Linked DNA regions of Homo sapiens: region 2 is linked to region 1. Evidence: fine-mapped expression QTL. A gene starts in region 1. The other region holds a variant in brackets. All regions are shown on one strand. Distances are from middle to middle.

Region 1 (16,389 bases):
CAGCAATCCCACTCCTAGGTATTTACCCAGAATAGATGAAAACTATGCTCACACAAAAACCTGTAGGTAAGTGTTTACAGCAGCATTATTCATAATTGCCAAAACCCGGGAACAACTCAAATGTTCTTTGATAAACCATCTGTGATACTTCCATACAATGGCAAACTACTTCATCAAGAAAAAGGATGTACCACATCCTAACATGCACAACAGTGTGCCTGAATCTCAAAAACATGATGCCAGGTGAAAAATTCAGACTCAAAAGGTTACACAATGTGGGGCTGGGTGCAGCGGCTCACGCCTGTAATCCCAGCACTTTGGGATACTGAGGCGGGTGGATCACCTTTGGTCAGGAGTTCATGATCAGCCTGATGGGGTTTAGTAGAAACCCCATCTCTACTAAAAATACAAAATTAGCCGGGCATGGTGGCACATGCCTGTAATCACAGCTATCCGGGAGGCTGAGGCAGGAGAATCGCTTGAACCCAGGAGGCGGAGGAGGTTCCTGTGAGCTGAGATTGTGCCATTGCACTCCAGCCTGGGCAACAAGAGTAAAACTCCGTCTCACAAAAAAAAAGAAAAAAAGGTTACACAATGTATGATTCCACTTTTATGACATTCTGGAAAAGGCAAAACTAGGAAGATGGTAAACAGATCAGTGGTTGCCAGGGGTTAGGTGTAGGAAGAGAGTCTCACTACAAAGGTGCAGCATTAGGGAATTTAGGTTGGAGGCAGAGGACTCTTTGGGATAATGTTAACGGTGGTGCTTACATTACCTATACAGTCAACAAAACTAAAAAAAGAAAATAAAAGAAAATCCGTAATTTTTTTTGCACACAAATTATTTTTTTCGAGAAGGTGTCATGCTCTGTTGCCCAGGCTGGAATGTGGTGCTACCATCTCGGCTCACTACACCCTCCGTCTCCCAGGTTCAAACAATTCTCCTGCCTCAGCCTCCTGTGTAGTTCGGATTACAGATGTATGCCACGACACCTGGCTAATTTTTGTATTTTCAGTAGAGATGGGGCTTTGCCATGTTGCCCAGGCTGGTCTCGAACTCCTGAGCTCAAGCGATCTGCCCGCCTTGGTCTCCCAAAGTGCTGGGATTACAGGCATGAGCCACCGCACCTGGACTGTACGCAAATTTTAGAATAGATTTTTTAAAATCCCTCTGCCTATTCAAGGATTTGTAATTTTTTCCTCTCACCAGCAAGCTTTATGGGAGGGTCTATTAAATTGGCTACCTTTCTTCCCAAACTGCTTATCTCACAATCACTTCTAATCTGATGTAGCCCCAACTCTTGCACCAACAACTGAAATTCCTCTTCTGGGGTTGGTCAGTGACTATTTGTAACCAAACCAACAGCTTTTTATAAAATGTCTTCATCAGTCTTTGAATCCCTTACCTCTCCATCCCTCTCAGCAGGTGTGACATTGCTCAGCTGTGCTTTTCCATCTGTCTGCTTTGCTGGCTCTTCCTCCTCCCATGCTTTACAGGTCGTCTCACCCCTTTGTGGTTTTTCTGAGCTCTCCTCACTCCCAAACCTTCAGCTATTATTCCTTTATGGAGTGAATCCCAGAGTCCTGACCTCTATTTTTCTCTTTTAGTCCTATACTTCCAGTTGCCTTTTGAACATTTCCACTTACAGATCTCTCTTGTACCACACATTTTCATGTCTAAAGCAGAGAGGTTTTTTTCCTGTTTCTCCCACCAAAACCTGATTCTGCTGGACACAGTGGTGCATGCCTGTAGTCCCAGCTACTCGAACAGCTAAGCCGGGAGGATCACTTGAGCCCAGGAGTTCAAGTCCAGCCCAGGCAACATAGCAAGACCCGCCCCCCATCTCTTTGGGGTAAAGAACAAAACAGGTCCTCCTCATGAATATTTTCCAATAAGTCAATGAGCCAAACTCAAACTTGGAAAAGTCTCATATGTCACCTTTTTACCTGCAATCCTTTGACACATGCCCCTGCAGAACCTTAAATTAATCGTCTCTTCCTATTGCCATGCTAATGACTGCCTGGATTTCTGCAGGAATCTCAAAGTTGGTGTGTATGTCGCTGAACTCTTCTTCAGTCCATCCTCAAGTCCACGTTGCTACTTTGAAATGAGGACCAGCTGAGTAGACCTAGCCCTTCATTGATCTCCAGAGATTTGGCTAATCTGGCTAGGCAGATATTCCTCATGCATTCTCATCCCTCCAGGTGCACCCTTCCCAAAGCAGTAAAAGAAAAAAAAAAAAAAATCAATGGAAGAGAATGACTTTCCCAGAGGGAGGAACTTTGCTTTCATTAGCTAAAGGCACAGCTGAGCTCTTGTTAGAACTTGCAATCAATATTTCAAGATTCATGGGCACAGAACTACCTGATTATTCCTGCTTTAATCAATATCCTTTATTCTCAAGAATCCTCAACACTTCCCCCACTACCCTACCCCAGAAAAATGTACTAGCCTCTCAGTTTGGCCTTCAGCCCTTCCACAATTTGACTTCGATGAACAATCATTCCTAACTGACCTAGGACTTTCTTTGAGCTTTACACATGTGTCAATATGACCAAAACTTTGCTCTTTTTCACACCTGCATCTTTTTCTCCCTTTCCTCCATCTAATTTTATATCCCACTTACCCATTTTTAAAAGTTTATTTTTTTATTTTTTAAATTAAAACAAATTTAATTTTTTTTTATTTTTGTGGGTAAATAGTAGGTATATATATTTATATGGTACATGAAATGTTTTGATACAGGCATGCAATGTGAAATAATTACATCATGGAGAATGGGGTATCCATCCCCTCAAGCATTTATCCTTTGTGTTACAAACAATCCAATTACACTCTTAGATATTTTTAAAAGTACAATTAAGTTATTGACTATAATCAATCTGCTGTGCTATCAAATAGTATTTGTTACTATTCTTATTCTTTCTAACTTTTTGTTTTTTGAGACATGGTCTCGCTCTGTCACCCAGGCTGGAGTGCAGTGGTGCAATCTTGGCTCACTGCAACCTCAACCTCCTGGGTTCAAGTGATTCTTCTGCCTCAGCCTCCCAAAGAGCTGGAACTATAAGCGTGCGCCACCACACCAGGCTAATTTTTTTATTTTTAGTAGAGATGGGGTTTTACCACGTAACCCAGGCTAGTCTCAAACTCCTGGCCTCATGTGATCTGCCTGCTTCAGCCTCCCAAAGTGGTGAGATTACAGGCGTGAGCTACTGCCTCTGGCCTTTTTTTTTTTCAAACCATTAACCATCCCCACCTCCCTGCCACCTCCCACCCCCTACCCCCACTACTCTTCTCAGCCTCTGGTAACCATGCTTCTACTCTCTCTGTCCATGAGTTCAATTGTTTTGATTTTTAGATCCTACAAATGAGTGAGAAGATGCAATGTTTGTCTTTCTGTGCCTGGCTTATTTCACTTAACATAATGATCTCCAGTTCCACCACTTTTTAAAATTTAACTTCAGTGCTGTATCCAGTATGTTCTTCCTGCTGACCACAGCCGGAAGTGATTCCTCCTTCACTGAACTCCTCATAACCTGCAACTGTTTGTTGGTGAATTTTGTCTTCCTTGCTAAATTCAAGGATCATTTGTTCAACAGCCTTCTAACCACCATAATGCTGAATACACAGAAGGTACACATTTCTTATTCTAAGCCTCAATATTTTCAATTCTTACATCAATACGAGGCCCGAGTTTTTAAAAATAACTCTTCCAAATGATTGTTTCTCATGCATTGGGAGGCAAAGATGTTAGAATTTTTTTAGAGAAAATGCCAGTGTAAATAAACTGTGTAAAAATATTTCACACAAGCCTATCAATATTACATAAATGCATGCTCCTGAGCACAATTGCCTAGTCTAATAATAACGTTTCCTCCTACTTAGCAAGATGTAAAGGTAACAGCCATATAGGATGGGAGAAAAGCTATCTAGCTATGTGAATGAAGCATCTCTTTCAAAGGGGACAAGCTTAATACCAAATTGACGTCTGAGCCCTTATTTAATTGCAGATATTTAATGTGGACCCTTAGAGTTAAGTGACACCTACAAGATCACTTTTTGATTTGGAAAAGTTCATGAAAGGATGGTCACGAAAGAGGCCATGTTCACCACACAGGTTGCTAAAATGGACAAAAAGCCCAATTCCAGATTCTAAGTCATGACCCACTTCCCAAAATATCAACAGAATTGACAGGTTATTGGCATTAACTTATTCCTTCGTGCATGAAAGCTTCATGAATTAATCAAAAGCAGCTTTAAATTTGCTTTTAGTTCAGGAGGTTTTTAAAACAGGCTATCAGACTAGGAAATTAGTGCTGTACACTCGCTTTCCACAGCTCTTGAACATGAACATAAAATTAAATATACAAAGCTTGGGTAGAGGCAGTTTTGTGAATATCACCCATCGTAGGTCGACTACTCAAAAAAGGCTGAAAAAGGACTTGACATCCTCTAGTGGTGATGTCTTAAACTTGTTTCCAAGGCAATTTTTTTTTTCCCAGCTCTTAACTTTGGCTGTTGGCAAGAAAAATATTATATTGGAAGAACTTTTCATCCTCAAGAAAAATAAATGTTTTCGCCACAAAGAATGTGATTTGACTAACTTTGAGAATATATACCCACAGAAATAGGGTTTTTAAATGTTGGGTTTATATAATAGCTTTCAATATGCTTAAGAACGGTCTCATTTCATAGGCCACACGCCACCACTGTCAATTCATCTTTGATACACATATACACACACACACACTCACACATATAATTCTGAACACATTACAGGTATCATTTTTATAATAACCTGATATTCTCATCTAAAGTGCCCTAAAATTAGACCAGTCTTTGTATAGAGACCCAAAAACTAAGAGTTATTTAAGAGTGGACTCTACCTCATAATAATGAGTTCTAAAAAGAAATAAAATTAATCCCTCAAGAAATGTTGCCATTTAAGGTGGCAATTTTCAACTCTTGATGGTAATAGTTTCTCTGTCCACGGCCACCCACCACCACCACCCCCCCCCACCCCCCCAACAATTCCATACAAACTTCTGATTGTTTAAAAAAATGAGACTTGCAGTATTTGGATGTGTATAATGTGAAATATGTTCACCAGAATGAAGTGCTAAATTAAAGTCTCATATTCAGATATAGGTCATGTGTTTTAAATATATGGAATAACTTAAGTTGTTGAAATTCAAACAATCTCACTTGTTCTCTCAAAATAACTACCACCTAGATTCAAAAAAATACATTTACACCTTCCTTCTTTCTTTGGCACCTGCTGACACAAATGCTTCTGAACACTAAAAACATTAATAGTAATCTTGGGGTAGAAAAATAGGAAAGAGATGCGGGGCCAGAATTAAGTTTTCAGTGAAATTATAAAGTATAATTATTCAAGACCATATATAAAAAATGTCCTTTGGAAAATGAAGTTTTTAGGCAAAAGTGTGGAAGAAATGTTTTCTATGAAGGAGATAACAGCCAATTTAACTCCCTTTTTAATAAAAGAAAATATTACACTGACAGGCACATGGTTGATTTGTATATTAATTGTTGGAAGCACGGCCTATTCCTTAACATGCTCAGGCACTGAATATCCTACAGTTTGTAGTCAGTTCACTTATGTCTGAACAAGTTGTTCACGTGCAGATTCTAGAAAGTTTATTTTTGAGCACAAACTAACACTTAGCTCGCTAGAACAATGTTGTTTCACATGCAGTTACTGGGTCAGGGTTAGGAACGAAAATCATGCCGTATATTTACAAATGAGGATGCTCCTCTCCCGGGGCCCTCACTTGGGGGAGCCCCGTCCCAGCGTCTAGCTCATCAAATTCCCGAAAGCAATTACAAAGGCATCTCTTCTCCACCCCAAAACAAAATAATGATCTACCAATCTTGCGAACACATTAAGACAAACTCCCTACAGGAAGGAGCATGACTTAAACAAGTTCAAGATACTTTGTCAGTCTTAACCTCAGGTATCTTGGCTGAAGGGATTAAATCATTAGACTTTACGTACCCAACCTCTTCCTAGCAATAGCAGATACATAATTTGCAAATACTGTTTCAGAGCTCTCTGGACCTTTCACGTTAAAATAAGCATACTTGATGGTGGGGAGACAGTGATTCTTACATTTAGGAAACAAATGCTTCCGATTGTGACCGTATGGAAGTGGAAAACAGCTTGCAATTGGAGAGTCTAAGAATTGAATTTCTTTTTAAAGTAAGAAACTGCCTCACTGCCCCCATCCCCAAGTGTAGGAAGATATAGAAACAGCTTACTGGCCAAGAATAGAAGAGGGAACCAGTGGAGAGGGACGGATTTGCAAGATAGCCTCTGGAGAAAAAAAAATCACGAGGGAGAAAAATCGGCTTCATACTATGGAGAGATGGGCGGGGTTGGGAAGCCTTGCTGCTGGTCTTGGGAAGCCTTGCTGCTGGTCTTGGGGACGTGATCCCCTGTCCCTAAGTGTGCCCCTGGAGGTTGTGGGGGAGGGGTATCCTCAACACAGAGGCCTGACCACCAAATCCCGGGCTGCAGAGCCAACAATCCTCCTTTGGGCTCCTGCACAGACTAAAAACAAAAAACTCTGAGAACTCCGACAAGTCAACGAAAGTCTGATCCCGTCAAGCCCGCACTCGCAAACCCCCACCGTGCTGCACTGGGCCCCGGCCCTCCCGAGCTCGGTCCCCTCGGACGACGGTCGTCGCCACTGCGGGCACCAGATTGGGGGGCGGGCCGCTCACCCCGCGGTCCTGCCCCACACCGACCCCGCTGAGGAGCCCCCGGCACCCGGGGCGACCAGGGAAGGCGGGAGGAGGTGCCCAGAAACTGCTCGTCCTGCCAGTCGCACCTGGCCGACGACTCTCTGGCCACTGGTTTGGTCTGGGGGATACGATTTCCCATTCAACTGAATTAGACCCGAGGCCGCGGCGGGGAGGGCAGCGGCCGGGGTCTCTCCGTTTCCTCCCCCGGCTCGCCTCCACCTGTTGCGGGAAAGTCGCGGTGGAGCGCCCGAGGGCGGCCGCAACCCCGGCCGGGGCCGAGCCGGGCTGGCCGAGCCGCGGCGGCGAAGGGCGGGGGAAGGCGCTCTCGGAGCAGGGTGCGCGGCGCGCAGGGCCGGTTGTTCCGGGCCGCGGCCGCGCGGGCGGGGAGGGGGCTGCCGGCGCCGGGTGATTTCGGTGCCAGCCCGCCGGCCCCGCTCGCCGTCCCCTGCCCGACGGGACCCCCACTATCCCCGCTGTGCGGTCACCTGTTTCGCTTCGCACTGCGCCGTCGCCGCCCCTGTGGCCGTCGCCGCCAGCTCCTAGCTCCGCCATGGTGCTCCGATGACGCGCCCGGAGAGCCGCTCCGCCCTTTCCTCGGCTTGGCTCCCGCCGGCCCCCGCCTCCCAGGCCAGCGGCCCAGACAGGTGAGCGCAGTCCGGGGATGGCGGAGGGCGGGGACAGAGAGCGCGGCAGTCGGCTGCGGCCTGGGCCTGGCGCGCCCCCTCGCGGGCAGGTGCGGCGTGGCAGCCGCTCCGACCGCCGCTGCCGAGTCTCGGCTGGAAGAGCGGCGGGCGGAACCAGTACCTCAGTCCGGAGCTTCCGGTCGCCGCGGCCGACCAGCTGAGGGCTCCCGGAGATATGGAGCGGGGTCAGCGAGGCCTGGTGGCGCCTCCTGGAGTCTGGGACGAGCGGCGGTCCGAGGAGCAGCCCAGGTGGGGCGAGGGTACGGAGACGCTATTTCCCTCCGAACTCTGAAGTAGCCAGGTCAGTGTCGGCTCCGCGAGGGCTGGAGTTCACGGTGACAGCCGGCAGAGCATCTGATGCCACGTGGAGAGGCGAAGTACATGGGTCGGATTCCACGCTGGGAGCCGGCCTGGATCTGCGCTTTAGGAAGCCACTGCGGGCGACCCTATCTTGTCGCCAGGACTTCGCATCTGATGAGCCTCAGGGCACACAAGTTAGAGAGGCTTGTGCCGGCTGATGTGGCTTTTCTTTTTCTTAGTTTCCGTTTAGTAAACGACCTTGTGACTTCTGGCTTGCTCAGGAAGACCAGAAAAAAAGGCAATAGGTAACGAATTTTTCTTTTTTTAAAGAAACAGATTATTGGCCGAGGAAAAACCAATTTCGCTCTAAAGGATAAGCAACAAAATACTGAGGGGGGAAAAAGCCTACACAAATGGAAACATACGGCACAAAATCAAGGAGCGACCAGTTCCGCATGGTTACACTAAAATGCACTGCACTCCCACTCTCTGGCTTGGCTGAAGATAACCAGCAAGCTCTGAACAGTTTAAAAGCCTTCCAAGGACTGCAGCAGCACTGGACACACAAGAGAGTCGAGAACAGTATTGGATTTATTGTTAGGGTTACAATTTTCACGATCTTTGCATGCAAAACTTGCCACTCTGAGCCCAGTGAACTATTTTTATTTGGTTTACTTACTGGCTTTCTGGATGACTAGGTAGAGCTTTAACTAAAGAACACTTCTGCTGTGGTCTGTGATGATGAATTTTCCCGTAGTGTCATTTCTATAATGGAATAGGCAAACTGACCATTTAGAATGTGATATTCCTAAATCACATTCAAATCAGTCTTATCAGAGACTTCTAATCAATAAAAATAAAGCACCAGATGGCTAGAGGTAGTTTTTGACCTCAGCTTGGGCCTCAGCAAAGATTTTTTGTGTTTTTTTTAACTACATTAAAACATCAGAGTTTAAGACACTTTTCTTTGAGCATCAGAAATACTCTCAGCTGAATTTAGAGTTGAACTATCCGGAAGAACCCTGGAGAAGGAGGGTGATTTATTTTCAACTTTCTGATTTACCACCGACTTAAATCAACCAATGAGTTCTTTCTTTGACCAAAAAAAAAAAAAAAAAAAAAAAAAAAAAAAAAAAAATTCAAGACTTGTGATGTTTCTATTTGTTTTGTTTTGTTTAGTTTGGTGTGTGCTTACTCATTGTCCCATTCTTTTGATAACCTGTATTTATCTGCCACAAGTTAAACAAAAATAAATGAAATAAGGAACACACCAAAATCCTGCACTTAGGCCCTGTATAGACAGTGTGTTCCAAACCTAAGGAGGTGTCTGCAACAGGGGAGGCTGCTGAGTGACTCTGCAGAGAACAGATGACATCTGTTAAATGTCAAACACCATCACGTCGTACTTCAAGTTGTACTTTACTTGGAACATGGAAGCCATCTGTCTGGAGCTCCCACATCCATTTCAAATCTTCAGGGTTCCCCATTCCAGGGGAGGAGCTGAACCTCCTGACACCGTCCACTTCCCTCCTGCCTCCTTCAAACATCATCCCTTTTTTCTCCCGAATCCCTAAATGTTTCTGCACCCAAGGGCTCTACCCCAATAAACACAGCTAAGACTCTTTGATTCTTAAAATGTCTTCCTTTAACGTCCCACCCTCCAGAATCTATTGTCGTATGTTTTGTTCACCAAAGGTAATAAAAATAAATGTGGATTTTGGTGCCGTTATTTTTCAAAAAAAGCTATATATTAATAGTTTTTCTTGCTTATGTATACAAATCAAATTACTTATTTTTAAATCCATCATTCCCCTAGAGTTTCTGCAGCACTTGATCCTCTAATCACCTTGCTCTTGGTCTACCATTGGCTTGGTTTTTCTCCTTCCTCTGTAGCAGTCCTTTCGTCTTTGTTGACTCAGATTCTTCCTCCCTTCTAATCCTCCAATATTTTTACCATCCCCTAATTGTAAACCACAGGCTTTTTATCTTTACTGTCTCTCACAGCCCTCATTTACTATTACTTCCATCCCGGATCCTGGTGACTCCCAACTCCAGAATATATACCCTTAACCTCACTCCTGACTTCCACTAATACATTCTGAATGGTCCCTGCACAATTCTATCAAGATACCCTGCTGTTAATTTAATATGTTCCAAACCACATTAATCTTGCAATATACAATCACTTTACACATACCTCTCCCTTGCTCAAAAACCTTTAATAGATTCCCCGTTCCTATATAAGTAAATATTAACTTCACCTCCTCACCATCACCACCACCACCCCCTAATTGGGCCCTGAGCTCTCTACTACCCATTTCCACTTTTCACCTCTGTAACTCATATTTCTAGCCCATGGAGTTGTTCATTCTCCAGAACACCTTCCAAATCCCTGCTTTCTAGTCTTTGTGCTTGAAGCTGCTCTGCCCGAAGTGATGTCCTTCATCCTGACGTATTTAATAATACTTTCCCTTTGAGGCCCAGGTTAAGGTCTACTTCCTCCATGAAGCCTGTTCTTCCTGCCCTGGCTCCCAGCATGCCTGTCCTTTGGACCTGGCCAGGGCTTGCTGGGCTTGATACTTGTCCAGCTGTTAAAATAGACTAGGCATGAGTTATTGCAAATTTGCCTTCTCAATCTGATGCACATTTTTGGTAGTAGGGTCTTTGTCCTCTACTTCTCTACAGGGTGTCCATAAAGTCTAGAACTATCAGTTATTTTATTTGTTCACGAGTTGCAGATGTTCTTGATGACATCATGTGCACTGCCTGCATTCTGAACTTGGTAGGCATGGTATATATCTTTTGTGTTGCTACCGTGCCTCACACACAGTGGGCATTCAAATGGGTTAATAATTCCTCAATGCCAAGCTTTTTTATGTGGTGGCCTAGGGATGAACGAAACCAAGTATCCAATGACAGAAGAAAGAGATCAAAATGCAGTTAAAAGGAAACATTAGATCTACTTCTCCCAGCAAATTCCTGTTTTGTTTCTTTTATAACACTGCCACCACCCCTGCATTAACTGTTCTGTTTCAAACCATCTTTCCAGGCTCAGCTCTGCACCTTCACTCCTCTGGAAAGCTTTCCTTGACCCCTTCTGACAGTAAATGTAACTATAGCACTGACTGCACCACTGTTGTTTCTGCTTTGTCTTGATTCCTTGACAAGAAACTTCAGGGGAAAGAACTGTATCTTGTTGGTGCACCACAATATGTAGTACCCAGTATTTAATAAATACTTTTGAATGAAGGATAAGTGATGGCAATAGCAAGCATATCTCAGTGTTTACTGTATGCTAAGCATTGTGCTGAGCACCTCTCCTGCATTGTCTTTTCCTTTTTGAGACAGAGTCTTGCTCTGTCGCCCAGGCTGGATTGCAATGGCGTGATCTCGGCTCACTGCAACATTCACCTCCTGGGTTCAAGCAATTCTCGTACCTCAGCCGCCCGAGTAGATGGGATTATAGGCGTGCGCCACCACGCCTGGCTAGTTTTTGTAATTTTAGTAGAGACAGGGTTTTGCTGTGTAGGCCAGGCTGATCTTGAACTCCTGGCCTCAAGTGATTCACCCACCTCGGCCTCCCAAAGTGCTGGGATTACAGGCACAAGCCACTGCGCCCAGCCTCCATTTTCTTATTTACATCTTATAGCAGACCTATGTGGAAGGTACATCATTTCCTCCATTTCACAGATGAGGAAGCTGAGACTTGGAGAAACTAATTCAGTTGTTCCAGGTCACAAGTCAAGTTACAGTTTTGCTTCAGGCCTGGGTGTGTAGCCTCCTGCTACGCTAAACAAATGATGAACGTTAACCATCTTGCTATTCCCTCTATAGAAAGGGGCTCTCCATTTCCCTCTCTAGCTGTTACCTGAAATAAGGAGGTGAAGCTTGATCATGTTAAAACACCTGTGAAACTAATTTTTAAAAAGGGTATCTGGGCCCAACCCCAGACCAGTAAAAACAGTTTTCCGGCTGGACACAGTGGCTCATGCCTGTAATCCCAACACTTTGGGAGGTTGAGGCAGGATGATCACTTGAGCCTAAAAGTTCGAGACCAGAGTGAGCTGAACATAGTAAGACCTTGTCTCTACAAAAAATTTAAAAATTAGCCAGACATGGTGGTGCATGCCTGTAGTCCCAGCTACTTGGGATGCTGAGGTGGGAGGACTACTTGAGCCCAGGAGGTCAAGAATGCAGTGAGCTATGACAGTGCCACTGCATTCTAGCCTGGGTGACAGAGACTCTGTCCCAAGAAAAAACAAATAACAACAACAACTCAGTTGTCCCAAGGTGGTGGCATCAATATTTTTGAAAAAGCATCCAAGTCATTTTAATGCGAAGCTGAGTTGAGAATCACTGGCCTAGATTGATCCTAAAAGCGTTTCAAATGCAAACCTTTCCATAATGGAGTCTTCCATAATGGAACTGTCTTCTTTTGTGCCTGAGACCCAAAATTCTCACAAATGGCTAATGATGTTGGCCTGGGAGTGTGTTAGAACCCTGTAGGGACAGAGGATCATCTGCTCACAAAGACAGGGTAAGAGGAAGGTACCAAGGAAAGATTGTATCCTTGAAGATTTGGTTTATGGTGGGTAGCTGGATCCTATATACAGTCAAAAGAAGCACTTCACCATTAGAATTGAGAAGATGAACTGTGGCTTAATAAACGGCTTACTCTGTGTTTCAGTATGAGCCAAATGGCATATCATTGAATTTATACCTCACTTATTTCAGAATATCCACACAGGATACCAGAGGCAACTCTGTCCTCCAAATTAGGATGTTAAAAAAGAGGCCAGAAGCAGTGGTTCACACCTATAAGCCCAGCACTTTGGAAGGCCAAGGCAGGAGGATCACTTGAGGCCAGGAGTTCAAGACCAGCCTAGATAACACAGTGAGATCCCACCTCTACTAAAAATTTAAAAATTAGCTGGTTGTGGTGGTGTGCCTCTGTAGTCCCAGCTACTCTGTAGGCTGACATGACAGGATTGCTTGAGCCTAAGGGGACAAGGCTGCAATGAGCTGTGATCGTACCACTGCATTCCAGTCTAGGCAACAGAGTGAGAACCTGTCTCGATCAATCAATCAGAAAACATTAGTGAGAATGTTTTCAAAATAAAGATGTCTTCTGCTTTGTCAAAGACTGTTGTTTATGAGTGAAATCATGATATACAAACAGCTCTATGTTATTTTTATCCTGCCTAATAAACAGGTTCCTCTGTATTTAAGAAAATGTATTTCATTTATCCATCTAGGAGCATCAGACTTCCTTTGATCAATATGGGCAGGCTCATAAAAATATACTACTCAGCTTAAAATAAATAAAAATGTTTATCCAAATATAAGAAAATTAAGGAGACAGAAAAATACAGTATTCTTGGCCAGGCATAGTAGCTCACCCCTGTGATCCCAGCACTTTAGGAGGCTAAGGAGGACGGATCACTTGAGGGCAGGAGTTCGAGACCAGCCTGCCCAACATGGCGAAACCCCATCTCTACTACAAATATAAATTAGCTGGGTGTGGTGGTACACACCTATAATCCCAGCTACTCAGGAGGCTGAGGTGTGAGAATCACTTGAACCCGGGAGGTGGAGAATGCAGTAAGCTGAGATCACGCCACTGCACTCCAGCCTGAGCAACAGAGCAAGACTCTGTTCAAAAAAAAAAAAAAAAAAAGCAAGCAGTATTCTCCATTAAGATGGTCTTTGCAGACCCCTTAAGATATACCATAGTTATCCAAGATAACTTGGGGCCTTGAGAAAAATATACTGACTTTCCTTTATTCTTTTTTTTCTTCATCCTCTTTTTTTTTTTTTCTTTTTTTTTGGTGAGACAGGGTCTTACTCTGTTGCCCAAGCTGGAGTGCAATGGCACAATCATGGCTCACCGCAATCTCGACCTCCCGGGCTCAAGCGATCCTCTTGCCTCAGCCTCCCATGTAGCTAGGACCACAGGTGTACACCACCATGCCTAGCTGAATTTTTGAGTTTTTGTAGAGGTGGGGTCTCACTTTGTTGCCCAGGCTTACCCTCTTTCTTAAACCTCTGTTCCTCTGAGGAACAACCTGAATGTCAGTTGTCTGACTGCTTGAATAGAAGACAGATTTTACTTAATGTTACAGCTGGAGAAATGACTGGAAATTTAACACAGCAGATTATCTAGTTTGTCAACACAAAATAAAAATTCTTTAGAATTTATCAAAACAGTATGTTGAGAGTCTCTTTAATTTTTAGAGTAAATATGACACAATGGATAGCTTTAGAACAAGCTAACATTACTACAGTTCAAGCATGTGCAACTGGTACAGTTCAGTAGTACATAAACGACTCAAACAAATGTACGACAGGTCAGAAACTTAAGTTACAAAATAGAGTCAATATTACAATTAACACAGAGAAGTAAAAACCATTGCTCTCAGATTCTGCACACTTAAAAAAACATAAACTTTATACAGTAATTGAAATTACGCATTTCTACTCAGATTATTAGAGCATATTACAAACACACAGAAGCCTAAACAGTTATGGTCACATTTTGGTTTTGTTCCAGTGGTGCACGATCACATGAAATGTTACATCCGTTTTGTGTGAAATAAACATTTGGCTGAAGTGCAATAGCTGCTGCATTAAAAATATTTCCATAAAAATGCTTAGATTAAAATCTTCCTGAACATTAGGGTTCTAATGTTCAGGATTATTTTAAGAGTCCTTATGAAGAGTCCTTAAAAATTATAGAAATAGATGTAGTTAGGAAATTTCAGTGTGTTTTGTCTGTTTTTTTTTTTTTTAACATGAGTAAACAAATACTGGATTTAAAGTGCAGCGCCTTTCTCCTCTCCCTTCGATTTTCCCACCCCCAAGAAGATCAGCTCTGTATTAATTTTTAGAATTTCCATCGAAGATTAGATTGAGCAACAGTCAAGTCTGTTTGTTTCGAAAGTCAATGATAGCCTTCCACAGTGTGCACAGCATCCCTCCCCTGTTTAAAGACACAAGAACATGGTGAAACGAACATTTCATTTGAAACATTGCCCTTGAAATAGAAAAGTGACTTCTTAGCTTTCATCTGCTCTGGTCAGAAGAAGATCCCAAAGTCTGATCAGTTATTATGTATTCTTTTTGTATATTTTTTCTCATCTTCCCTCCATTCCTTCCCTTTTCACTCCCACAAACTGCTATGTCCCAAAACATCATTTTAGAGTTTCAGCATTTTTGAAATTTGTCTTTATAATGGTGGGTATAATAGTTTTATGCTTGGGCTGGGCGCGGTGGCGCATGCCTGTAATCCCAGCACTTTAGAAGGCCGAGGCAGGCAGATCACGTGGTCAGGAGATCGAGACCATCCTGGCTAACACAGTGAAACCCCGTCTCTACTAAAAATACAAAAAAATTAGCTGGGCGTGGTGGTGGGCGCCTATAGTCCCAGCTACTTGGGAGGCTGAGGCAGGAGAACGGCGTGAACCTGGGAGGCGGAGCTTGCAGTGAGCTGAGATCACGCCACTGCACTCCAGCCTGGGTGACAGAGTGAGACTCCATCCCGAAAAAAAAAAAAAAAGTTATATGCTTGGCCTTAATTAACAAGAAATTATATCAGATTATACCAGGTTTTTGGAGGGCAAGTCAGCACCTCCTCCAAATATTTATTGAGTATAACACCATCATGAACTCAATTAAAGCATTTGTTTAAGGCAGCTTCAGAATATCTGCATGGACTTAGTCTGCATCTTATTCAAAAAAATTCTTCCAGTTGATTTTCACTTACTAATATAGAAATATTGGTTATTAGAGCCCTCAAAAATATCATTGTCCAACTAACTCAGTTTACTCAGAGCAGCTAAGAGCTAGAGAGCTCTGTCCAGAACTACAAAGCTAATTAGAGACCCAGCCTGGGAAGATACTCAGACTTTTTGATATTTGCCTGGTGCTCTTTCCATAGTGACAACAGAAAGAAAAGTGGTACCTTAGTCTCAAGCATTTTAAGTCATCACGTGTAACATAGTAGAGAACATCCAATAGTGTATAATCTTCAGCCAAAAACTGTAGAGAAAGTAGAATATGCACAAAAGATGTTTTATATAACTTTAATAAAGCACAAACTCTATTCATAATGTAAACCTTGACTATAATTAAAAATGAATCTAAAAATGAAATCTACTAAAAACACAATCTTCCAGGATTATTAGGGGAAAGGCCTCCCTGTTACTCAATAAATACAAAGAAATGCATCCAGGCCGGGCGCAGTGGCTCACGCCTGTAACCCTAGCACTTTAGGAGGCTGAGGCAGGCGGATCATCTGAGGTCAGGAGTTCGAGACCAGCCTGGCCAAAGTGGTGAAACCCCATCTCTACTAAAAATACAAAAAATTAGCTGGGCGTGGTGGCGTATGCCTGTAATCCCAGCTACTTGGGAGGCTGAGGCAGGAGAATCGCTTGAACCCGGGAGGCAGAGGTTGCAGTGAGCTGAGATTGACCCACTGCACTCCAGCCTGGGCGACAGAGTGAGACTCCGTCTCAAAAAAACAAAAACAAAAACAAAAACAAAAACAAAAACAAGAAATGCATCCATATTAACTTCCAAATGCAAAAAGATTACAAGTGACACAGAACTTCTGAATGGTCTTCTAATGAACAGATGAGA
Region 2 (16,389 bases), 180 kb before region 1:
ATTCCTGAATATCTTCACCCCTGGAGAGTCAATTTAAACATTTTATATATAAATTGGTTTGAGTTCATTGACAGAAATACCTGTTCCTCCAGTGAGAGCTCCCTTGGCTATATCACCGTTTCTCTGATCACTGGTTTTCTACGAAGAAGAAAAAAAGAGGACTTTTAAAAATTAGAGTTACAAGTGAAAATGAAAAAGATAAAAGCATACAAAAGTAGTTAGAAAACGGCCATGTCAATACCTTATCTGTAGCTTCTGTTCTCCTGGTTCTTTTCATAATCTCCTCAAGTCGCTATAGGAAAGGAAGAATTGAGCAAGAAGATTAGACACAGAAAAAAAGCCAGCCTGGCATATTTAACTGATGAAATAGATTATTTAAAATGGTCTGTTATTTTGGAAAAATACAATATGCACTTTTTTTTTTTTTTTTGAGATGGAGTCTTGCCCTGTCACGCAGGCTGGAGTGCCGTGTGGCAAGCTCTCAGTTCACTGTAGCCTCTGCCTCCTGGGCGCAAGCTGCCTCAGTCTCCCAGGTAGCTGGGATTACAGGCGCCCGCCACCACGCCCAGCTAATTTTTACATTTTTAGTAAAGACAGGGTTTCACCATGTTGGCCAGGCTGGTCTCGAACTCCTGACTTCGGTGATCTACCTGCCGTGGCCTCCCAAAGTGCTGGGATTACAGGCATGAGCCACCCGGCCCAGCAGTGCTGCTTTGTCTTAACTGGGGTTATTCAAGAAAGTTGGAACTGCCTTAAGCTACATGAAGTGGAAGTAAGTGTTTTTTGGTGACGGCTAAAACACCGAGAGAGATTTCTTTGCAGGAGATTGTTATCACTGAGGGGGCTACTAGTTTATGTGGCAAGGGTAGAACACGCGTTTTCTGACGGCCAGGGCTAGTCTCTGGGTCTTAGAGGTGCAAGTTCGCGTCCCGGGCCTCTCTACTAAGACGCAGCTACCTTCTTTCTCTCCAGGCGCTCTTGCTCTTCTCTCTGGAAATGCTTCTCTCGTTCCTGCCGGACCCTCTCTGCTTCTTCACGAACGCGAGCTTCTTCTTCTTTCTGAAAACAGAAGGTCGGCGTCTGCCTCTGACAAACAGGCGGGCTGCCCGGGTCTCCCAGGGGGTGCCCAGAGGTGGGGGCGAGGTGGCGGATGGAGAAGGTGTGGAAAGCGGGAGCACCAGCAGTCCAGTCCGCACCCTCCTCTGCTGGGCTGGGGCGTCTCCCTGCGGGACTGGGGCCGGGGCCAGGGTGGGGTGCGGCCGCACCTGCCTCTGGGCGCGCTCTGCCTCCTCCCGCTCGCGCAGCGCCCGCTCCTCCGCCTGCCGCTGCAGCTGCTCCTCCTTCTCCCGGGCCTGCTCGGCTTCCAGCCTGCGCGACTCCTCCTCACGGCGAGTCGTCCTCTCTTCAGCCACACGTTGAGCCAATTCCTCTCTCTTTTGTCTGGAAAAAGACAGAACAAAACCAAAACCAAAGACACCTGAGGAGAAATCTTTGAAGAGAGGCCTCCGTCGGTGGTTCTGTAGGGCGGTTCCTTTAGGCGTCCAGTAGAAAAATCCCCACTGGATGCCTTCACCACTGCTAAGGGACAAAGCGCGAAGCCACCCTTAGACTTCCTCCCGCCTTGCCAGCTGCATTGCTGTCCGTGCTAAATAGAAGCAACGTGTAACCACCAATATCTTGGGGAGAGCTGGCTTTTTGGAAGGAATTTAACTATTTTTTAAAGGCTCTGACTTGTTTAATTCAAATAATGTGACTTCTTAGTAATGAATTTGAAGCACCCCAGCCAAAGGGAATCTTTGTAAATAAATAAGGGTCACAGTGTTCTGTCACAGGACAGGAGGAAGACAGCCATGTAAGCTCCCTGTTGGAGCCAAGGGAAAGGCATGGCCAAGATGGCGGTCCAGCGAGTGCATGAGATCCTTCCCCAGGGTACAGTTGTGTTCGTTTGAAGAACAATTATATTGACATTCGTCTTATTAGGCCCAGAAGATGACCAATTAAACAAACTGTTTCTGGAATACTGCCTGGCAGGCAATCATGGGGCATGTAAAGATCCCACCTGGCTACCCTCCGAGAGGAGTTTTATCTGGAAAGGAGAAAACATGAACCCTTATTATGCAGCCTTAATGTGATAATTACAAAGATAAAACGGAAACCTGGAGATTGGAGATGTGTTAAGTAAAAAAGCAGACTGTACAATTGTACCTCTGCTGTGGTTATAATTATGTAAATATGTATATGTATGTATATATACACACACACTCCCATACTGTTGAGAGACTAGAAAGGACCACCCAAAATGTACACTATTACTGAAAATTGGTATGATTATGGATTTTTTTTTTCTTTAAAGCTTTCTCCATCAATGTTGTTGCACTGTCATTAAAATAAGAAAACATGGCTGGGCATGGTGGCTCATGTCTGCAATCTCAACACTTTGGGAGGTTCAGGTGGGAGGATCCCTTGAGCCCAAGAGTTTGAGACCAGCCTGGGCAATATAGTGAGACCCCATTTCTATTTAAAAAAAAGAAGAAGATGTGATTTAAAAAACAAACTGCTTAGTAGTCATAGGAAAATTAGGTAAGAGTAATCCTGAAAGAACTAATCCATTCACTTTCATCAGTATTATCACCTCCTCCCTCTCAGAGGGGTGATGAGTTAATCCAAAGTATCACTGACACCATGGTGTGGAGCAATGTCTCCCATTTACCTTTCAAGCTCTTCCTGCTCCCTCCTCTCCCTTTCTTCCTTTTCTCTCTGCTCTCGGGCCAGCCGCCTCTTCTCAGCTAGAAGCCTTGTGGCCTCCTCTGGGTCGGTGGTGCCTGCAGAAGTCTTAACAGAAGCACTGGCATTCACAGTGGATGACGGGGCTGAGACCATGGCTGGGGTGGGGACCGGGGCTGGAGCTGGGGCCGAGGCTGGAGCTGGGGCCGAGGCTGGAGCTGGGGCCATGGCTGGAGCAGCTGCACAAATAGGTACAAGGAGAAAACCAGTTGGAAACAAAATCCAAAGAACAAAACCAAAACTAGCATTCCCCACATCCAAGGCCTAGAATTTACCATTATGAAAGAAAAGGGAATGTTTATTACTGTGTGTTCTCACGGTTTCACTATGTTCTATCTGTAACCAAGCAACAGATAAAAAAAATCAGTATGTGTAAGTAAGACATCCAACAAAGCTGACACTCTGTCACCAAGTCTTATTTTTATACCAGTTAAATCAGTTAACATATATTGAATGTGTACAAAGCCTCATGTTAGAGTCTGTGGGGAGTTATACACTGAGCAAAAAGAAGATGAGATCATCCATTTGTCTTTTATTGCATTTGAAAATTCCTACTCTTCGGTAACCATTCATTACTAGAGCAGCATCCTCAGCATCCATGCCATGAGTCCAGATTCAGCCTGGGAAGATGATACCCTATGAAGAGGACCCTTTTGTCTCCCCAGAGCTGTCTCTAGGTCTGAGATGGGAGGAGCTCGGGGCCTCTTTGGGAGCTGGTGCTCATTCTGCTTATATATCCCAAGCTGCCAAGATGCAAGATGGGAGCAGAAGTTCTCTGGCCTTACTCGGATTTAGGAAGATGACCTAGAGAGCTGGTGCCCCAGAAGCCCCACACTGATGCTCACAATTCTGCACCACAGTGAGCAAGGCACCAGCAAGTGCAAGCTCTGGCCCCTGGCTGCTCCAGCCCCTCCTTTTGAGAGTCACATTTCTACTTCTGCTTCCACAGACTTTTCTCGGCCATCATGATGCTCTAGCCCTTCTTTCCTTCCTTTTTCCATGGAAACAAATACTGGACTCCTCCTTTTTCTAACATTTTAACCTGTTTTGAATCATCTCTTCTTTCTTTGCCCCACCCTCTATCTTCAAATTAAGTCTTTTGAATGAAGACAATTCTCAACTAGAAATATTGAATTCACAGCTCCAGGTGGTTTTAAATTTCTAAATAGCATCTGGCTAGCCTGGCAGAGGTGAGAACCAGTGGGCCTTCTGGAAAAAAATTCTGACTTCTATCAAGCACACAGGCTATACCAGGGGTCCTTAAACTCCAGTATGCACAGGAATAGCATTGCCAGATTTAACTGGCCACCCTGTGTTCTATCTGGCAACCATGTTTAGGAATCAACTGACAAGCTTAGTATCTTTCAGAGTCCTCATATCCACCACTACATATTCTGACTTAGTAAGTCTGAGGTAAAAACCAAGGGTCTGTATGTCAAAACATTATAGATGTGGTGGTTTAAAAATATTTCCAGTTTTCCTCAGCTGCTGCCAAGCTGCACTCGGTCCCTCTGAGGAATGTAGGGCCACATTGAAGTGGAACCCTCACTTCATCTGGCAACTAGCACCTTGCCTGGCAGTGCCAGCCCCACACTTGCTCACACCATGGCCTCTGTTTCTGAGCTCGCCTGCATTCTGCATAAGGCTCGGCCCTCATTCTGCATGAGGGTGAGGTGACCGTCAAGGAGGATAAGATCAATGCCCTCATTAAAGCAGCTGGTGTAAATGTTGAACCTTTTTGGACTGGCTTGTTTGCAAAAGCCTTGGCCAATGTTGACATGGGGAGCCTCATCTGCAATGGAGGAGCTCGTGGACCTGCACCAGCAGAAGGTCCTGCCCCCTCCACCAATGCTGTTCCAGCTGAGGAGAAGAAATAGAAGCAAAGAAAAGAGAGTCTGAGGAGTCCAAGGAGGATATGGGCTTTGGTCTTTTTGACTAAACCTCTTTTGTAACAAGTTCAATAAAAAGCTGAACTCTTAAAAAAAATTCTTTGAAAACTCTCTCTTCAAAAGTTGGAGACTATGTTTCTCCTTGAGTGTGAGTTCCACCTAGTGACTTGCTTCTACTTAACAGAATGTGGCAGAAACATTGGTGTGCGACTTCTGAGACTGGGTCATAAAATACATTGTACATTCCTCCTCATTCTCTCTTCCAGGTCACTCACTCTGGCAGAAGCCAGCAGAGCAAGCAGATAGATGAGGACATTCAGCAATAATATGGAGCGGTCCATGTGTGGAGAAGCTGAGGCCACCCGCCCCCGGCCTTGTATGTAAGCCACCTTTCAGATCTGGTTGAGTCTTGAGATGACTGGAGCTCTAGTGGACAGCTTGACTGCAATCTCATGAGCGGTCCTGAGCAGGGACCACCCAGCTGTGCTGCTGCCAAATTCCTGACCCAAGAATCCATGTGATATGATAAATGTTTGTTGTTGTTTCATGCTGCTAATTCATTATGCAGCAATAGATAATGAATACAACAGGTGATTTTGATGCAGGTGCTCTGAACACATTTTGTGAAATGGACTCAGCCAATAAAAGCACTGAGAACCTACACCTGAATTCACGTGTTTGTGGCTCTATCAATAGGCTTTTGGATGTATGATTTGAGATTTACATTTCTACTTCTGCTTCCACAGATTTTTTTCATGGCTATTATGATGTTCTATGACCCTCCTTTCCTTTCTTTCTTTTTCCATGGAAGCAAACACTGGACTCCTCCTTTCTCTACCATTTTCACCTGTCTTGAATCATCTCCTCTTTCTTGCCCCACCCTCTATCTTCAAATTAAGTCTTAAGTAGAAAACTTTGGAATGAAGACAGTTTTCAACTAGAGATATTGAACTTCAAGCTCCAGGTGGTTTTACATTTCTAAGTAGCATCTGGTTACCCTGGCAGAGGTGAAAACCAGTGGGTCTTCTGGAAAAAATTCTGACTTCTATCAAGCACACAGGCTACGCCAGGGGTCCTTAAACTCCAGTATGCACAGGAATAGTGTTGCCAGGTAATTTTTTACTTAGCGTTGCTAAGTAAAAAACTATTTTTAAGCAATGCGAAGTTAAAATATTATACTTAAGGAAAGGTATTAAACTTAACCTTAGAGTAAAATTTCCAAGTCTCCAATAAAAGAAGAAAAGGAAAACAAAAAAAGCTTCATCAAAACAGTGCGGGAGAAAAAGAGAGAGCACCCAGACCACAGGTGAGTTTGCTCTTACCAGGGCCAACTTCTGGTTCAGCAGGTGTCCGCTCTTCAACTGTGGCTTCTTCTACCTTCACTAAAGGTGCTCTGCCCTTTAGTGAGGGCTCATTGGCAACTTTCTGAGGTTCCTTCTCAGGATCTTTCTTCTCAGGCTCCACTTTGACTTCCCTCTTGACAGGGCGGATGTTGCCGGGGGATGGGGGCCGGACCTGAGCAGGAGCAGCTTTGACTGAGCCGGGTGGCAAGGAGGATGTCGGTCTGGGTGTGCCAGGCAAATGAGGAAGAGACTTGGACGGAAGCCTGGGCCACAAACAAACAAGGCAGACAAAAGGGGACACATGAGAACAGGCTTGCCAGAACCTAGAACACGACTCGATGGAAGAGAATGCAGATATTTAGCTCCGTGTATTTGTTTTTTATGTGGTAGATACAGAAATAGAGTTGCTTTAGGGAACCATTCCAATTTCTCTTTTTTCTTTCCTTTTGGGAAGAATGCTATTCCCTAAGTCAAAGCCAAACAGCATGAGAAGAACAGTTCACTTTCAGAGGAGAGAGCTACTAATTCTCTAACATGAAACAACCCAGCCAGCCACTTATATTTCACTTACCAAAGTCGGGAGCGAGCTGGTTGTCTTGCTTTGGGATTAGATGGAGATACAGCCCTTCGGGTGCCAGATGTGAGGAAGAGTACATTTTCTCTCTCTCTTTCTTTTTTATAGCTCTAAGTTCAGAGAAACTCAATAGTTAGATTTTTCCACAAGCGAGGCAAACACACTCACAATACTCAACAGTGGAGCTAGAAACCATTGAATGACTTTTAAGAAATTTTCTTAGCTATGTCACATATACCCATTCCATCTCAACAAAAGGCCCTTGTTAGCTTAACACTGAACAGTATAACTGAATTAACACAATGTGACACTAATAAGGTGATTCCGGATGTGTTGGAGTCATATTTGTCAAAAAGCATATGTGTGTACATACTTTTAGAAAGCACCTATACTTTGTGTCTAAAATTAATTACCTGAAGCAAAACGTCCCATTCTGGTTTATCCCCCACAAATGTCAAATGTTACTTTCATTTTTTAAAAAATTTTAATTAAAACACATCTTTTTCTTTTTAATTCTTCAACATTTTCCCCCCAAACACACTATATCTCAGTCTTTAAAAAAATTATATGCCTGCTATATTAGACATAAACTCATTTTTTTCTTTTATATTGATGTTGTATAATGGAATCAAGTCCTTCTTCACCTACTGTCCTCTTGCAGCAATAGATAACTGATACAATAGGTGATTTTGAAGAAAAGTCAGGTTTAAAGTGAGGAATTTCAGCTATTTATTTTTTTGCTCTTCCTTACCAGGAATAAACTGAAATCTGAAGGTGGGCCAAAACATCACCCCTCCCTGATTGCCAACTAGGAATTCAGCTTGAGAGATGACACTTTCCTAAGTCAAAATGGGCAAAGGGAAGCCCAGAGAAGTGTTCCACTACTCTAAAGTCAATGAAGACCAAAACAAACAAACAAAAATTGTACAGAGCAAAACAGACCCATTCCAAGTATCTGAAACCTGACAATGCCCTCAGGTGGGAGGGGCACGTGCTGGAGGCACCTATGTGAACACCTGTCAGGAGGGCAGACTGCAAGCGTACATGGGAAGGGGCAGAGTATTATCTAGCCCCAGGTCACATGAACTAGTACTGTACCTTTTCTTCTCTCCTTTTCTGCCTGGCTCAAGCATCGACTCCTCTTTTCCTTCCTTTCCCTTTTGTTCCCCTCAGTGTCCCTTTTAATTGCTTCCCTCCATTTTCCTTAGCAGCATCCTAGTTGATGGTCTGGGTTATCAGAGGAGCAAAAACATTTAAGTGTCAAATAATGCTCATTGTCTCCCTGGGATTTCTAAACAGAAAAAATGAAGAAAGAGGCAGAGAAGAGCTTCACAAGGTGTGTGCCAGCTCTGCATCATTTCCAGCTGCTCAACCACCATTTCTCCCATTTTAGGTCCCCAAAAGTAGGAGGTGGGGCCTCACAGAGCTGCTGTGGGCTTTGGGTATCAAAAGCTGCAGCCACCATATGGGGCACTCCTGGCTGGTGTACAGGGTGGCATGCCCAGGTCTTTTCCCAGGGGAGACTGGGGTTAAGTACCTCAAGTAGCCCTTCTTTTTTTTTCTTTTTCTCAAAACATTTTGATTTGGCTGAAATCAGATCAATGGGTGATGTAAATGGGAAAAAGACTCAAGAGGGACAATTTTTGATGTGGCGTGGGGGTGGTTGGGGATTATTATTATCTGTGCCTTGATAATACAGGGATCAGGGAATGAACCTATATAAAGGTATATAATCCTAGAATTACAGTACCTTTGAGCCAATTCTTTCTTTTTTAAAAGTTATCTCCTTTAATCACCTAGGGGTAGGTGAGCAGAGGAGGAATGGTTTGGAAAAACACTCGATACTTAACACCCTCCCAACCAGGGAGTTTTTTTTTTTCTTTCTTTTTTAAACCTTTCAGTCCTTTTGTTACTCTTATATCCAACCACCCATTTGGGTACCACACATGTAAAGGCACTCCCAATTCTCATCCTGATCTGAGTTAATAGCCCACCATCTATACAATCATCTTTCCTATTAATAGTTTCCACAATGCTGAGGGGGAACACATACTCAGCAAGTCAATGGTCTGGGCAACATATCAGCAGGAAAAGGACTTTAATTTTATAATTAAGGTAGGTTTAGAATACAGTATAAATATCCTCCAACAGAGACGATTCACTGACAGATACTTTAACGCAGTGCTGTTTAATAGAACTTTCTGATATGATGAAGATGTTCTAAATTTAGCCACTAACCACATTTGCCTATTTGAATTTAAATCTAAATTAATTCAAATTAAGTAAAATAGAAAAGGAAATTTGAAAAACAACTCTATTTCCTATAGCATCCAAAGGAATAAAGTACTTAGGAATGAACTTAACAAAGGAGGCTAAAGATCTGCATACTGAAAACTAGAAGATAGTGCTGAAAGAAATTAAAGGCAACACAAATAAATGGAAGGAAGTCCTGTGTGCAGGGATTAGAAGATTTAATACTGTTAGGATGTCACTACTACCAAAAGGGATCCACAGATTCCATGCATTCCCTATTGAAATCCCAATATAATTTTTTATTTTTGCAGAAATATAAAAATTCAACCCAAAATTCACAGAAAATTTCAAAGGATCCTGAAGAACCAAAATAATCTTGAAAAAGAACAAAGTTGGAATTCTTACATTTCCTGATTTCACAACATATTACAGGTTGAGTATCCCTTATCCAAAATGATTGGGATTACAGTGTGCAGATTTCAGATTCTGGAATACTTGCATTAACACTTACTGCTTTAGCAGCCTTAATCCATATAACTGGAAATGTGAAATGCTCCAATGAGCATCTCCTTTGAGTGTCATGTTGGTATTCAAAAAGTTTCACATTTTGGAGCATTCTGTATTTTTGAATTAGAGATACTCAATTGGTGAAAAGCTACAGTGATCAGTACTGTGTGGTAATGGTATCAAGACAGATATAGATATATGGGGCTGGGCACTACGACTCATGTCTGCAATCCCAGCATTTGGGGAGGCCGAGATGGGTGGATCGCTTGAGGTCAGGAGTTCAAGACCAGCCTGGCCTACATGGCGAAACCCTCTCTCTACTAAAAATACAAAAATTAGATGGGCGTGGTAGCACATGCCTGTATTCCCAGCTACTCAGAAGGCTGGACATGAGAATTGCTTGAGCCTGGGAGGCAGAGGTTGCAGTGAGCTGAGATTGTGCCATTGTACTCCAGCATGGGTGACAGAGTGAGACTGTCT[C/CAA]AAAAAAAAAAAAGATATATAGACCAATGGAATAGAATCCAGAGCCCAGAAACAAACCCTTGTGTATATGGTCAAAAGCTAACACCACTCAATGAAACAAGGACATTCTCTTCAACAAATGATGCAGGGAAAACTGGATATCCAAATGCAAAAGAATGAAGTTGGACTCTTACCTTCTAAAATATACAAAAGTTAACTCAAAATGGATTAAAGACTTAAATGTAAGACTTAACACTATAAAACCTCTAGAAGAAAACATAAGTGAAAAGCTTCATGACACTGTGTTTGGTACTGATTTCTTGGATATAACACTAAAAGCGTAGGCAATAAAGTGTCAATAAATTAACAATAAACAAATGGGACAACATCAAACTTAAACACTTCTATATATCAAAGGAAACAATCAGTAGAGTAAAAAGGCAACCTATGGAATAGAAGAAAGTATCTGTAAGTCATATATTTAATAAGGGGTTACTACTAGAATATATAAATAACTCTACAATTCAACAAAAACAAAATAACCCCATTAAAAAGTGAGCAAAGACTGGAATTGCCATTTTTCTAACGATGACACATGAAAAGCCAACAAGCATATGAAAATATGTTCACCATCACTGATCATTAAAGAAATGCAAACCAAAACTACAAGACATCACCTCACATTCCTTAAGGTGGCTGTTATCAAAAAACAAGATCACGATTGTTGGCGAGAATGTGGAGATACAGAAATCTTTGTGCACTGTTAGTGGGAATGTAAAATGGTACAGCTGCTGTGGAAAATGGCATGGAGGCTCCTCAAAAAATTGAAAATAGGATTACTATATGATCCAGCAATCCCTATATATCAAGTGAAATTGAAAGAACAATCTCTAGAGATATCTATATTCCCATGTTCATAGCAGCGTTATTCACAATAGCCACGAGGTGAAAGCAACCCAAATGTTCACCAACACATGAACTGATAAACAAAATGTGGTATACAAATATAATGGAATATAATTCAGCCCTAAAAAGGAAGGAAATTCTGACATATGCTATAATAAGAATGAACCTTGAGGACATTATGCTAAGTGAAATAAGCCAGGCACAAAAATTCAAACACTGCATGATTTCACTTTTATGTGGTCTATAAAGTAGCTAAATTCATAGGAACAGAAATTAAAACAGTGGCTGCCAGGGCCTGGGGGGAGGGGGAAATGGGGAGTTGTTTAATGGGTATAGAGTTTGAGTTTTGCAGGACTTAAAAAGTTCTGGACATTGGTTGCACTTCAATATGAATATACTTAACACTGCTGAACTTTAGAATGATTAAAATGGTAAATTTTACGTTACATGCTTTTTTTTTTTTTTAACACAACTAAATATTTTTTAAAAACTTAAAATTTAGCTTGTCAGTTTCAGTAGCCACTTTCCAAGTGCTCACTGTGGCCAGTCACTACTGAATTCCACAGTGCAGCTCCAGGGTATAAATGACTCTGAGTCGTTTTCTGTTAGTATTTGCCTAAATACTTGGTTGTAAAGAGGTAAAAAGACAGCTATGTGATTAAATAGAGAAAGAGGAAGGTAATAAAAACAAAACAAAACAAGGCTCTGGATCATGTGATGACAAATCTCTCATTTAACCTGTCAGCCACAGGTGGCCCTCAACCTTCTCTCAAGGAGTGTTAATTTTTGTTTTTACCCAGAACAAGATAGTTTTTCCATGGTAAATGCTCTTTTCCCCTGCCCAGTGAGTACCCAACTTTGGGGCCAACCTGTTCTGTTTAACTACGGCTTTCTGTCTACAGCTAAGGAGGATCTCTGAAACACCAACACTCTAATAAATTAAAACTTTCCAGACATCAAAGATTGTTTCACCTGTGGCTTAGAGGGTTGGAGGCCTGACTCAATCATGAATCAAACACTGATTCCAGAAAGGCCGATGGAGCTTGAAAGAAAAACAGGCTGTAGGCAAAGCCATCAAGCTCTCACAACCCTGAATTATCCTTTAAGCAAAATCCTTTTAAGTGTCCATCAGGTTTATAAATCTGAATTGCTCTGGGAAGTTACGATTTTAAGAAACTGTTTCAGCCTTTCATCAAAAGGGTCATACTGTTATCCTGGAGAGAGGCAATGAGATCTTCTAGTTCACTGGTGAGTCCTTTAAGACTAAAGTACAATGTCTAAAGACCACAGAACAAGGTTTATATCTTTCAACTGACACCAAATAAACACAAGATTTAAAACAAAGAAGAAGATTCCTGGAGACATACAAATTACCTCATTGCATTTATAGCATGGTGAAAATTAACATTACCTCAGCCCGTAATAATAAGTACAAATTATATTTTTCACTTACAAAATCAGAATTTATAGCACAGCCTAACAGCCTTTTACGAATTAGTGATATAGCAAATGACTAATGTTTTCAAAATACTTTTTTGACTAAATTTTAAGATCCCTTGACAGGGCCTTGACAGGGATTAGCCAAGCAGGATAAAAATTCTTTATCTTGCTTTTGAGTGAACCACATTTAGAGTTCAGCCAGCTTCTGGATATGGTTGAAATAAAATGCCAAGGCAGCAGTCCAAGCCCACTTCCCCTTCAAAGGCCATTTGGTTTTCCTACTTTCAAAAATGAAAGTATTCTGGCATTGTACTTATGTGTATGGACGCTCCAGGAGGGTAGGGCGTCCACTCATACATGCTTGAACAAAGAACAGCTTTCATCTTCAAATTCAAATGTTTAGGGAGAGCAAAATCCCCAAGTGAAGAGGAAGTGAGGGGACACTACTGCCCAGCTAGCCAGATTCATGATCAATGGGAAAGATGGGATGGTGGATGTCACGGTCTCCCCCTCTTACGCCCACACCACAGCTCAGGGTCATGTACAGTCTGCACAGGAACAGCACTGGCTCCCAGACTTGCCCAGCTGCTCCCAACAGCTACTCACCGCTGTGCCATGAATGATCCTCCTGCGAGAAGAGCCCTCAGGTGGTGTTACAAAGAGTTTTGGTCGATCCATCGAATTTCTAGAGTGTGCAGCTTTGTAGGGCATGATGATGGGGCTGCAAGATGCTGAACGAGGACAAATGGGGATAACTAGGGTGCAGGTGATTGGTTTTACACACAAGAGTGCCAGAGGAGCAGTTGAAGAAAGCCAAAAGCAGGTTCAGGAAAAGGAGCAAAGCAGAGATAGAGAGAAAAGTAGGAAGAAGATGTTATTACCTAAAGGTGCCCAGAACCATCATACTCAACTGTCCTTACAGTCCTATGAATTTATGATGAGTCCAAAAGGAAGGCATGTCCACGTAAAAAATCTGGAATATATTGTTAGCTCTTTGGCTCTTTAAATACTAATGAAAGATGTAGAAGTAATCCAGTAATTATGGAGAGCAATGGTCTTATATTCCTATTAGCTGATGGTTCTGGAAAAAAAACTACATTAGTGATAAAAGATAATTTTTATATAAAGACTAGTTTATAACCAGACTTTTCCTAAATTAGCTTTAAGATGGAACAAAAGGTGGAAAGAGAGGAAGCGTGCAAGCAGGCAAGCAAGATATACTACAACTGTTTCAGGATTCAAATTCAACAGCCAGCAGGGGAAAAAAGCAACCAAACTTAAAAAATGTTAAGTGAACAAGTCTTACCAGGTGTTAAGACTTGTCACGAGGATAAGTAATACTTTTCCAGGAAAATATTCTGTACATGTCTTATTTATTTATAGGCAAACCAAATGCATGCTTCCGGGTTTTCCCAAAAGCCAAGGCATTTGATAGTTCATAAGAAGCAGCATTAGAGCATATGGGGAGATTAGCTATATCTATTTAAAATGTTGAATAGAACAGAAATATGTTAGATCTGCCAAATGTAAGGTTGAACCGTGAAGAACCTTTACAGTTTTACTCAAGATGGAATATTTTATGAAAAACTACATAGCTTCTGACCATTACCTTCCAAGGAACACTGTCATGAATCAACTTATTGCAAACAACAGTGGGTTTAAGGAAATTCATATAACACTGCATAGGTATCAAAAGTGTGAGTATTCAGGTTCTAAGGTCCATTTTCAGATCTCATTCAGAAATTTTATTTCCTAGCAAAAATAAGACAATTAAACACAAGTATAGAGAATACTATGTATTTGGACATGGTTATAAAAGGACTTCTCAACTGTAGTCTTTGTAGCAACCCTTTAAAGAAACCACTATGCCAGCTGAATGTAAGAGGATTAATAACTTAACTCAAAAGTTCACAAGACAAACTTGGGGTGATCTTAACTTCAGGATTATAGAGTTGAAAAAAGATTTGCTATTTGGGTTTAATTTACAGACAGAAAGTCAATCAGATTGCATCTTTATTAATGCACTCTTTCATTAAATGCCTGGCAGTATCTTCTGGCTATCACTGCATGGTTTTGTTCTGCTTTGAGACAGGATCTCACTCTGTTGCCCAGGCTGAGGTGCAGTGGCACGATCTCATCTCGGCTCACTGCAGCCTTGACAGTGAATAGATTGGAAACCGGTCTCTTTTCCCATCATTTGAAAACAGAATTCTGTTTCTTCAGGACAAACTAAAACACTTTTTCATTTCTTCAGTTTTCCTTAAAATAATATATGTACGTCTTAATTGGAAACTGACATAAAGCTTTACTTCCAACCTTAATGGAGAAGGAAGGATTTGTATTGTGAAGGAAGGGAATCTCTTTGTCATTTTGCCTGGGATCACAGGAAAAACTCTTTGAAAATAATCTTTTCTCAAGCGCCACAACAAGGCATTTGCATTTTCTAGACAAGAGTTCACTAATGCAAAATTCTTCCAAGCCAATCAAATGCATTTAAGAAATAACATCCTGGCACAAGGCACTTCTGGGGATTAATAACCGGGGGCAGAGGCACGCACTGCTCAGGGCACAGCCGGAGGCCATTCACCTTGCTCAAGGATCAAGAAACCCTAGAAAACAGCTCTGCTTGGAGGCCATGGGTCTGACACTGAAAAAGGAATGAAGTACAGAAATATGATTTTTCTCTCAAGTGGAAAATAACAATTTCATGAAGTATCTATGGAGCATTTCCTGAAGCTATCATGGATGTAAGCCAATATCACCAGGCCTCTGGTTTATTCTTTATTTTAATGTTGACATGATACTAAATATGGGTTGAAAATATCCTTAAACCTAGCTAGTATAGTCCATAGAAAAACATCCTCAAATTTAGTCCAAAGAACATCTTTTGGCTAAAATAAACCTAAGTTTCTTGTAAGGATATTAGATTTCATGGAATTCATTGCTGCACTGAATAGCAAGTACTGAAAAACCTGAAATCTTCAAATCAATTATTTGAATAATCTTGCCCTTCTTAAGAAATAATAACAATATATAGTTATTTTTTCCCAGAGTACACTTCATATCCCAAATAGTTAATTAAACATGAACACTGTCTCACGAAAATGTCTTTAAGAAAGTCTCCCACAATATATGTATTTGATCCTACTCTTGGTGGTAAGTATGCATTAATTGAACTCGTTCAGGATTTTCTATACGAAATAATGGGTGCAGAGAAAAGATAATGCAGGTCAAGTAGTTGAAATGTAGCATAGCAAAAAGAAAAATGGCATAATATGGTAATACGGTACTAGCATTTACTGAGGGCCTACTATGTGCAGGTACTAGTCTAAGCATTGCATATACATTATTTAATCCTGAGCTCTAATAATCACTTGTATTTTGAATGTCCCGGGGAAAAAAAGTATAGAAAAGTCAACCCAAAGCAGTGGCTGCAAATGAGAGGTGTGAGACTGGGAGTTCCAGTTCTCAACTACTGTATTGTTTGTGCAGGGAGTTTGCAATCACTCTATATCCCAGGGCTAAAAGTAGCTGTTTAATCTGCTGATGTAACCCAGTACAGGACATATTATAGGTTACCTTCTTGCCAATGGCAATTAGGAATATGATGAGGTTGAGGGACAACACTAAAATGGGAAAACATGAAAGAATAATCAAGGACAATAGATGAAAAATAAAAATGATGGAAAATGTGGTTTTGACAAGATAATCGGAAGAGATGTTTGCATATATACTTCTAAATGAAAATTTTAAAAAACCCCAGGAATTTTGGTTCATTAAACATAAGCTGTATCGATGAAACTGGTGACAATGAAGCAGGCAATGTATTGACAAAACAGGCAGCTCAAGTAAAGGCTATGCACTCTTTCACACTAAAATAAATTACAGAAACATATCAACTTGTGAAAAGGAGAATGGAAATGTGTCAAAATAAAGAGCCGGTTTGCAGATAAAAAAGCACCTTGGTTGAGCATAACAACAAAGAAGGGGAGAAGATGGGCAAGTAGAATGGGTGGAAAATGAGGAAACAGTATTGGAAAAGACTAGAGGGAGAGTGAAAGAAGTGACAAGAGTTAGTGATGACAAAAATAGTAAAGACAATTTCCCAGCTGTGAGGCAGTCCTTTAGCACAACACAGCATACAAGGGGAGATTCAGAAGCATGACAGCCATAAACCAGCTAAATGCTAGAAAATAGGACTGAAAAGCGGTTTTTTTTTTTTGAGACGGAGTCT

Evidence for each region. PIP is the estimated chance that this variant, and not a neighbour inherited with it, causes the effect.
Region 2: its variant is fine-mapped to the expression of MAP7 in macrophages (Nedelec 2016, PIP 0.95).

Annotation. Positions count from the first base shown.
Region 1 is chr6:136,543,088-136,559,476 of GRCh38, forward strand. MAP7 (microtubule associated protein 7) reads right to left here and starts at 7,335. Exons shown (of 18, transcript NM_003980.6): 1 at 7,255-7,335. The coding sequence starts at 7,321. It overlaps MAP7-AS1 (MAP7 antisense RNA 1), which reads right to left and starts at 9,418. Exons shown (of 1, transcript NR_186370.1): 1 at 7,636-9,418. It overlaps MAP3K5 (mitogen-activated protein kinase kinase kinase 5), which reads right to left. Exons shown (of 30, transcript NM_005923.4): 29 at 15,713-15,789; 30 at 13,959-14,731. The coding sequence ends at 14,671. It also overlaps the pseudogene RN7SKP299. RefSeq lists enhancers at 6,171-6,709, 7,248-7,785 and silencers at 7,007-7,056, 7,067-7,246, 7,287-7,636.
Region 2 is chr6:136,359,740-136,376,128 of GRCh38, forward strand. MAP7 (microtubule associated protein 7) reads right to left here. Exons shown (of 18, transcript NM_003980.6): 8 at 12,762-12,886; 9 at 6,588-6,700; 10 at 5,996-6,279; 11 at 2,711-2,963; 12 at 1,266-1,440; 13 at 958-1,059; 14 at 242-292; 15 at 81-138. It also overlaps the pseudogene RPLP1P8. Among named protein-coding and RNA genes, the nearest start is that of BCLAF1, 78 kb to the left of the region's middle. The variant C/CAA (reference allele first, on the strand shown) is at 9,831.